Regions from separate parts of the Homo sapiens genome. Here region 2 is reported to be linked to region 1. Evidence: microRNA targets listed by miRTarBase, many of them from high-throughput screens and not tested one by one. Region 1 holds a microRNA gene; the other region holds the end of a gene's coding sequence.

Region 1 (4,413 bases):
TCAAAGGGAAGCAAAACAGAACAAAGATCAAAGCCAAGGATATCCTATCTCTTTCATATCAGTTACCAGAAAGGAAGTGACCTCTCTTACCCAAGGCCAATCCCTCCTAGGGCTCTGCCTTATTTATCCTCTCTCAATCTTGTGTTGTTAGTTATCTTTGCTCTCTCTCCTGTACCTATAACCACACCATAAGGCATTTTTATAATCCCAAATTCCTTATTCTTTTGGCATGCATCGTGTCATGAATTCAGAGGGATTTGTTTCTTGCTACACTAATCTTCACAGAAAACCTTCCTTGAGTAGAATTAACTAGCACATCAGCTAGGCATATGGACTTTTTCTGGGCTTCCTTTTATTTTTCCCCCAGATGATTTTCATTAACACATTTCAGGCTACTGTAGATTGCTTAATATGTTAATTAAACACATTAACTTTCTTGTCAAGAATCTTGCTTTTTGATTACTTACTGTTGTGCAAGCATGCTACATTGCAGACCCTTCTAAAAAAGCCCATGAAACACTGTTGGGTAGGGTCCACGAAATTACACATTTTAGCTGAATGTCTAGCCAAGGGTTAAAGTCAATATTCAGCCTAAGTTGAAGTTGAAGATGAATATCACTTCATGGCATGAACTTCTGGGAAAAAAGAATAAATATTAAAATTTCCACATTTTATTTTAATTTTGTCATTAAAAATGCTCAAAGTCAAAGTGTATAATTTGACATTACTGTACAACACAATGATTTCCCAGCCTTCTCAGTGGAGGTCAATACACTAAACCTGTGTAATCCCAATACAGTAGACTCTCACTTTCAATTTAGATCAAAGGAGGAGCAAGCTATTCTGTTTTGAGCTCTGCCATTGTAAATATTGATGGTGAAATGGACCCTAAGATAAGATTTTCTGGGAAGAATTGCAACATATAAAGCATATATGGATATTAATTTTTACTCCAAGTCAATTTTGAATATATTTGAAAGTGAATGTTTAGGTAGTAATACTACACTTTGAATGATATGCAATCCTTCTAACTAATATTTTTATGGTGATAATAATTTTGGTTGTCTCATCCTTGATCATCAGCAAGTTTAGAGTTCCGGAGATGATAAGTAAGTCTTTCACTATTCTTCCAAAGAGCAAGCTTGAATCCCAAAACAAATTTTGTAAAATTTCCACGTCAAATCAAATTCTGGTACATTTGTGTTGTGGGTAATTTCTTATTGCATAGTATCCATACTCTCAACACCTTCAATATCATTTACTTTGTTGATCAGCATATGCAGTACCAAAGGAACTTAAAGTTGCCAAAGCACACAGGCCGAGTCTGTCTTCCATATTCTTATTATTGGTTAGTTGTTTTATATGAATGATTATAAGATGGCAGTTTTGATAGACCAGTCCCATGCTACACCACTGAAAGTGCTCTTGCCAGAGTCACCAATAATTTCTTTAACTGATCCTCAACTGACTTGATCTCTGTGCAGCAAATTTATTAGGTTGGTGCAAAAGTGATTGCAGTTTTTGCCATTAAAAGTAACAGCAAAAACCACAATCACTTTTGCACCAACCTAATACAATCTTGAATATTCCCTACTTTGTGAAATATTTTTCCCTATTATTATTACATTTTTTAAACTTTCTCTAATTACTCTGCTTTTTCCCAGTTTGTTTTGAATTTCCCTGCTTTCTGCTAATCTCTTGTATATGAATTTTCTTCCAGATTCTAGCCTAGATAGAATTTTTATTTTTTTGCTTCACGTAGCCTCTCTTTGAGGATTATATTTTTCATACTCACAAATTCAATTATATAATTTCAATCATGATTCTCAAATCTATATCTTCAGCCAAGATATTTCTCCAGAGCTTCAGATCTAATTTGTTAGTCACCTAGTAGATATCACCACATAAAATCCTATAAATATCCCCCTTTAGTGTCCTTTTTATCAGTGAAATTACCACCATCTACCTAATTATAAAAGCCAAATACCCAATAATTTTCCATGACTTGCCCTTTTCTCATTTACTTTTTATATGTAATCAGTTATCAAGCCTTGTGTTTCTATTTGATAAAATGGCTCTCCTTTTATTTTTTGCTTACCTTCATCTTTTGTTATTATCATAGTTCAGGCAATCATCTTTTGTCTTTAGTCTCAAAACACCTTCCTTTCTGGTCTTCCGTATTTTGAATTCATTACTTCCAAAAATGTTTCTATTGGAGCCAGAGGGATGGTTCCAAAAATCCAGTCAGATCATAGCATTATCCTGATTAAATATCATCCCCCATTACATTTAGAATAATACTTTGGGGGTTATTTATAAACTGCCTTCATTTAGCCACTCAATCCCATCTTTTTTCCTTCTCTCTTGTTTTCTCTGCTCCAAACATTCTGAAATTTTCTTTCTTTCTCTGAATAAATCATGATTATTCTTACCTCTAGGCCTTTGCACAAATAAAAGTTTTGATGAAGAAGTTTCAAGTTAATGGTTTGTGAATGTAAGACAATTCTATTTTTTTTTTCAATAACTGTTGCCAGGTTTGCTTTGTTGAATTCCTTCCCTGCTGGGCAACAAGAAACAGTGATATCTCAGTTTGACAAATAACTTTTTATTTACTTCTGATTAAAAATAGTCTTAATTTGGGGTAGTAAAACTTTCCTTTTTTAAAAGCTTGTGCAGGGCTTCTGTATAGTATACGTATTGAACAGGGTTTATGTGTCGATATGGATAGGGTTGGATGTGTTGTTGGCTTTCTCCCTCTCTTTATCTTTTTCCCAGTGCCTGTTGTATTGATGATGATGTAAAGGGGTGTGTGCATGTTGTGGGTGGGGGGGTGTGAATGTGTGTACGTGTGTGCATGTGTGGATGTCTATGTAGTATGAAGGGGGAGATGGTAGAGGAGTGGGATGTCTTTGCTTATGCTGTATTAGTGATAGTGAGGTGTTATGGTTGAATCACCTAATACACACTGTTTCCTTATGTCTGGTGTTGTTACTTGGTCTACACTGAGAGAAGTCAGATGCCAGGTTTAGAGTTATAATAAGATTGATCTGATTTTTGGAAATATCCTTCTGGCTAAGTTGAAACCCATTAGGAGTAATCAATTAGAAATATAGGCAGTCTTCTAAGGCTGACAAAAACAATAAATTGGGGAAGGACTCCGTATTCAATAAATGGTGCTAGGATAACTGTCTAATCATATGCAGAAGAATGAAACTGGACCCTTTCATCATATACACAAATCAGCTACAAATGGGTTAAAGATTTTAATGTAAGACCTCAAACTATAAAAATCCCAGAAGAAAACCTAGGGAATACCCTCTTGACATCAGCCTTGGCAAAGAATTTATGGCCAAGTCCCCAAAAGCAATTGCAGCAAAAACAAAAATTGTTAAGTGGGACCTAATTAAACTGAAGAGCTCTCCACAGAAAAAGAAACCATCAACTGAGTAAACAGACAACATATAGAATGGGAGATAATATTCCCAAGCCATGCATCTGACAAAGGTCTAATATCCAGTCTATAAGGAATTTAAACAAATCAACAAGCAAAAACCAAATAACCCTATTTAAAAATAGACAAAGAACGTGAACAGACACTTCTCAATAGAAGACAAGTGGCCAACAAACATGAAAAAATGCTCACCATCACTAATCATGAGAGAAATACAAAGCAAAACCATGAGATACCATCTCACACCAGTCAGAACAGCTATCATTAAAAAGTCAAAAAACAGCATGTGCTGATGAGGCTGTGGAGAAAAGGTTACACTTAGACACAGTTAGTGGGAATGTAAGTTAGTTTAGCCACTGTGGAAAGCAGTTTGGTGATTTCTCGAAGAACTTAGAACTACTATTTGACCCAGTAATCCTATTACTGGGTATATACTCTTAAGGAATACAGGTCATTCTACCAAAAAGAGACATGCACTCATGTGTTCACCATACTATTCACAATAGCAAAGACATGGAATCAACCTAGGTGCCCATGAGTGGTGGGCTGGATAAAGAAAATATATGTATATCACATGTGATATATATATATATCACATATATATCACATTTGATATATATATATATATCACATATATATATGATATATATATCTCATGGAATACTACACAGCAATAAAAAAATGAAATCATGCCTTTGCAGCAACATGGTTGGAGCTGGAGGCCATAATCTTAAGCGAATTAATCAGGAACAGAAAACCAATACCACATATTCTCACTTATAAGTGGAAGCTAAACATTGAGCACAGATGGATGTAAACATGGGAATAATAGACACTGTGGATTACTAGAGAAGGATGGGGGGTTGTGGGCTAAAAAACTATTGGCTACTATGCTATCTACTGGGTAGTTATATAGCCTAAGGAATGTTCATCACCATACTGCTTACAATAGCAAAGACATG
Region 2 (4,413 bases), not on the chromosome of region 1:
TTTAATGTACCAAAAAGACATTAAACGTTATACTCATGGAATTTAGCTGCTAAGCATTGTAAGTAACCGCTGACATTTCTGTTAAGAGAATATTTATTTTTTAAGTGATTAAACTTGGTGATTGCTTTTAACACATTTAGATAGTAATTTATTCCTTTTCTTTATTAAACTTTGTTAAGCTTTATTCAACTTTGATCTTTACCAAGGAAACAACATGACCAAAGTACCAAAAAAAGTAAAATAAACTTGTTTTTTGAAAAGAGTCTGTGAACAGGTACATGGTACAACAAACTGATTGGCAAGCAGTCTATGTACTTTTCCAGTTGTCATTCTAAGTAATGACCCAACTTCTCTATAGGCCCAGATATACTATTTCCCACTAAGCTTACTCAAAGATGAGTTTTCATCACTCCTTCCCCATTTTGGTTACTTCAGCACCAGTGAGGGAAATTTACCAAGCAGTCAAGGTGAACATTAACCCAGAATATGAAGAAAGAGTAGGCCTGCTTACTGATGACCTTGACATGTGTGGCTTCCAAGAGGAACAGACTCATTATATGCTTTAGGACTCCTGATTCTTGGATCTCTATTTTACTTTCCTAGGTAAGTTTTATATTACAGATATTTAATATATTTGGCTAAATTATGAATTACTTAAAGATAGAGGCTGTGTCTTCAATGTTAATCCCTCTCATGTCCTAGCACGACATTATTGCTAAATTGAAGTGTGGTTTTGGGCTGAGAATTTGCCCTAGTCTAGATTCAATATTGGAAGACATTATGTATCAAGTAATTAAAAGTGTGATTTTGAGGATCAAACTTGGGTTCATGTATTGCTCTCTTACTAACAGTGTAACACAGAGCAAGCATTGTATTTAATCTCTCTGAATTTCAATTTTCCCATCTGTACAATTTAATAATTATATACATCTCATATGGTTGCTATAGAGAGTAAACAAGATAATGTACATGAAGTAGCCTAGTGAGGCTACTCATGACCACTGTTTTACTATTATTTCTGAGGATAGTTCTAGAGACCAACAAGAGACACCTTTCTGAATTCATTCTATGTGGACTGGACCATGCCCAGGGATTTTCAAGGGTGGCAATAAGACCATACTGGGTGAATTACTTGGTATGCCCTCATGGCTTTAATAAAAGCAGTCAAGTGTATTCCAGTCTTGCACCAATCTGGAACTAACTCTTATGATAGTCTTCTTGTACTCAAGAGGCTGAAAAGATGTAAGGGACTGTTACTCCAACACTGAAGATTTTAAAAAGCTATCCATGTATTTCCAACAGTCAGTGAAGGTTATTATATCTAGAGAGGCAGTTTGATTTTCCATTTTATGCTGATTTGTTATATAAAATAATTATATAAATTTATTTTCATTCAAACCAGTTCACTAAAAGTGTGTGTGTGTGTGTGTGTGTGTGTATTTAAAGTTATTTTTGGATATGAATATTGGTGGGGAAATAATACTTGATTTCAGTTTAGAGTTTAACAAACTCAGAAGTTGATTTTAGATTGTAATTCATGGTTCAGATAAAGTTTTTACTACCTCAGTATTCCAAATACCAGATTCTGACAAAACATTTGGTCACTGAGTCATTCAGATCTTTCCTCTGCTGATGCGATAAACAGTGGCCAGCAAAGAAAACCTCCGCTCGCTTACATCTATTTTTAGGTGTCCTTTAGATTATGAATGTTTGCCTGTATGCGAATATTACATGTCTTCTGTCCATTTATACAATTTTTTTGCTTCATATAACTTCTTTAATATTTTCTTTTTAATTTTTATGGATTTGGATTATTTTTAATCTTCATATCCATTGGCACTCTTTACAAAGAATGAAAATACAAATTTAAAAAGCCTAATTATAGTCTTTCTAATTACAGAAAAAAAACATTCATTAGAAGAAATACTGACTGCTAGAAAGGAAGGAAATTTAGAAATAAACTAAACTTTTCCTTTCATAAGATGGAAAAAACTGAAGCCAAATTTGGTGGTAACTTGTTCAGGGTCTTTAGGTGGAATGATAAAGGGAATACTAGAACTTCTGACAACTGAATTCTGCCTCCTGAACCCCCGCCACTACTCAAGTGGCCCAAAAAGTGCAGTTATTTCTTATTTTGGACTTCTCATTTTTCATATTAACAGTAGTTCATAAGCATTTAAAGATGTATTATTTGCCATTTACAGAGTAAACATGGATAAGGAAAGATAGCTTTATTTTTAAAAGAAATAAATTCTCTATTTAAAGCATACATGAGATAGTATCTTTCATTTAGTCCTAAGCTTGATTATTTATGCTCATTGTAATATTCCAGTGACATTCTGGACATAAATTTCAAGTATATCACCATATACTTATTGTTAAATATCAAACAAAGCTACTGACTGTGAGGGAAAAATTTCAGTGATTTTTTTTGTTTGTTTTTTTGTTACTTACCCTGAGATACTCATCCCACAGTATATCTGAGATTTAGCTGAACATTTACAAATTTTAACAAATTTTTTTTCTTTCCATTGCATGCATCGATATGCCAAATTCTGCACTTCAATCCAGGTAAAATAATGATAGTGTTTGTAAACCAGATAGTGAAAACCAGTGTGTTTTCTAATACTGCCCATGATAGACAGAGTGAAATCACAGCATAAACAGTAGCCAGGAACCTATACTGCAAACATTTGGCTTCAAGTATCTTGCAACAAATAGCTACTAATATGACCATACACGGCACATAGAACACCACAGTCCTGGATTGTAGCATGCCTGTAAAACCCATTAAAGCATTTTTTTCTCAAACTTTTTGTTCATTATTACCCTCCTTCCCAATTACAGAAATTAAATTCAAATTACATTAAATAGTTTTAACTACAAATTTCTTCCCAATGAGATAAATTAATACTAAGGAATAAGATTTTGTTGGATAGGATGATATTGGAAGTCCACAAGCCATATCTAATATTTTTTCACCCCAAGAACCAATTTTTGTCCCCAATTGAGAATGTAATGCTTAAAGTTGATTAAATAAATTAAATAGCCTTTAACATTATTAGAAAAAAACCTAGTGGGTAACAATGGAGGTTGAGATAGTTGACTTCTAGATCATCTTTTTTCCATACTTGCTGTATGAACAGAGAATAAGTCATGTCTTTTTATTTTCTTGTTTTGGAGAACACAGGAATAGCATAAAACCTCATAGCCTGCAAAAATCACTTAATCTCACTGGACTCAATGTTCTTGACTATTAATTGAAAGAACTGGTATAGATCAGTTGGTTTTCAATTCTGGTTGTACTTTCCTAGGGCATATAAAAGATAACAAAAGATAACAACGCTCAGCCATATTTACCCAGACCAATTAAGCCAAGTCTCTGGAGGATATGTTCTAGCCAGTGGGTCTCAAACTGTACTGTAAATCAGAATCACCTGACGGGCTTGTTAAACCAGATTGGTAGGCCTTACTCTCAGAGCTTCTGATTCAGCAGGTTTTGCGTGGGGCCTGCAAATATGCATTATCAAGTTCTCAGGTAATGCTATGCTATTAGTCTATGGATCACACTTTGAGAACCACTGGACTAGGCATATGTGTAAGAGTGACTGTGCGTGTGAGTGTGTGTCCCCAGGTGAATTCTAATCACAAAACTACTGTATAGAAAATATCAATAAGGTTCTAAGTTTTAGGATACTGAGATTTTAATATAATAAGAGTTGTTAAACATCAAGATGATTTATAGAAAGGAGACCTATGGACAAATATCAACTTATTGGTCAATAAAACTTGTTCCTTAAAGTCTTTTACAGTATTTTTTGAAAATTAACTTTTTTTTAACTGCATATATGGGTCTTCACTTCATTTTTCAGTAAAGACAACTTATTTGGATATCAGTGTCTCATCACTTGATAAGACCAGTGGAGGATTTGGATAGTAGCCAGCTGTTTTTGAATTGCTTGAAGAGAATCTTGTAAATTTGTAGTCCAGAGGTAATTCTGGGGAGGAAAAAAAAATTTAATTATTGCACAGGTCTCTGAATGCCTTTCATAAACAAATCAAAACTTGATATTCACTAATAAAACTTATTTTTTAGACGTAAAATTTTAATATTTCTTTTGCTCCTTCAGTAGGTCTGTGTGTAGCTATTATTATAAGGTTAAAAATGTGTATAAACCAACCACCATTGTAATACATATGGCTAATAAAGACAAACTTTTACAACAGCTATAAAAAAGGCTTCTAGGCATTTAAATGTGAATGAGATAACCATGTCTAACAGAATATCCACAAGTATAGAAACATTACTTGAATATAAAAAGGTTTTAAGAGGCAAAAGGGATGTACCAGGTTATTTTTCACTTCCTATCTCATTTAAAACAATTTAATTTTATTCTTTCTCCCATATTACAG

The links. Region 1 holds the annotated microRNA hsa-miR-548az-5p (CAAAAGUGAUUGUGGUUUUUGC, at 1,540-1,561, opposite strand). A microRNA usually pairs through its seed, bases 2 to 8, with sites in the 3' UTR of a target mRNA and lowers its output. Matches are read on the target gene's strand: a 7mer-m8 pairs with bases 2 to 8, a 7mer-A1 pairs with bases 2 to 7 and ends in A, and an 8mer does both.
Region 2: the mRNA of NT5DC1 is a reported target of hsa-miR-548az-5p. Seed matches in the 3' UTR shown: 7mer-m8 at 2,113-2,119, 8mer at 1,408-1,415 and 8mer at 795-802.

Annotation. Positions count from the first base shown.
Region 1 is chr8:119,322,338-119,326,750 of GRCh38, reverse strand. MIR548AZ (microRNA 548az) reads right to left here and starts at 1,580; the gene lies at 1,486-1,580.
Region 2 is chr6:116,243,494-116,247,906 of GRCh38, reverse strand. It overlaps NT5DC1 (5'-nucleotidase domain containing 1), which reads right to left. Exons shown (of 12, transcript NM_152729.3): 12 at 1-3,998. The coding sequence ends at 3,883. Among named protein-coding and RNA genes, the nearest start is that of TSPYL4, 8.4 kb to the left of the region's middle.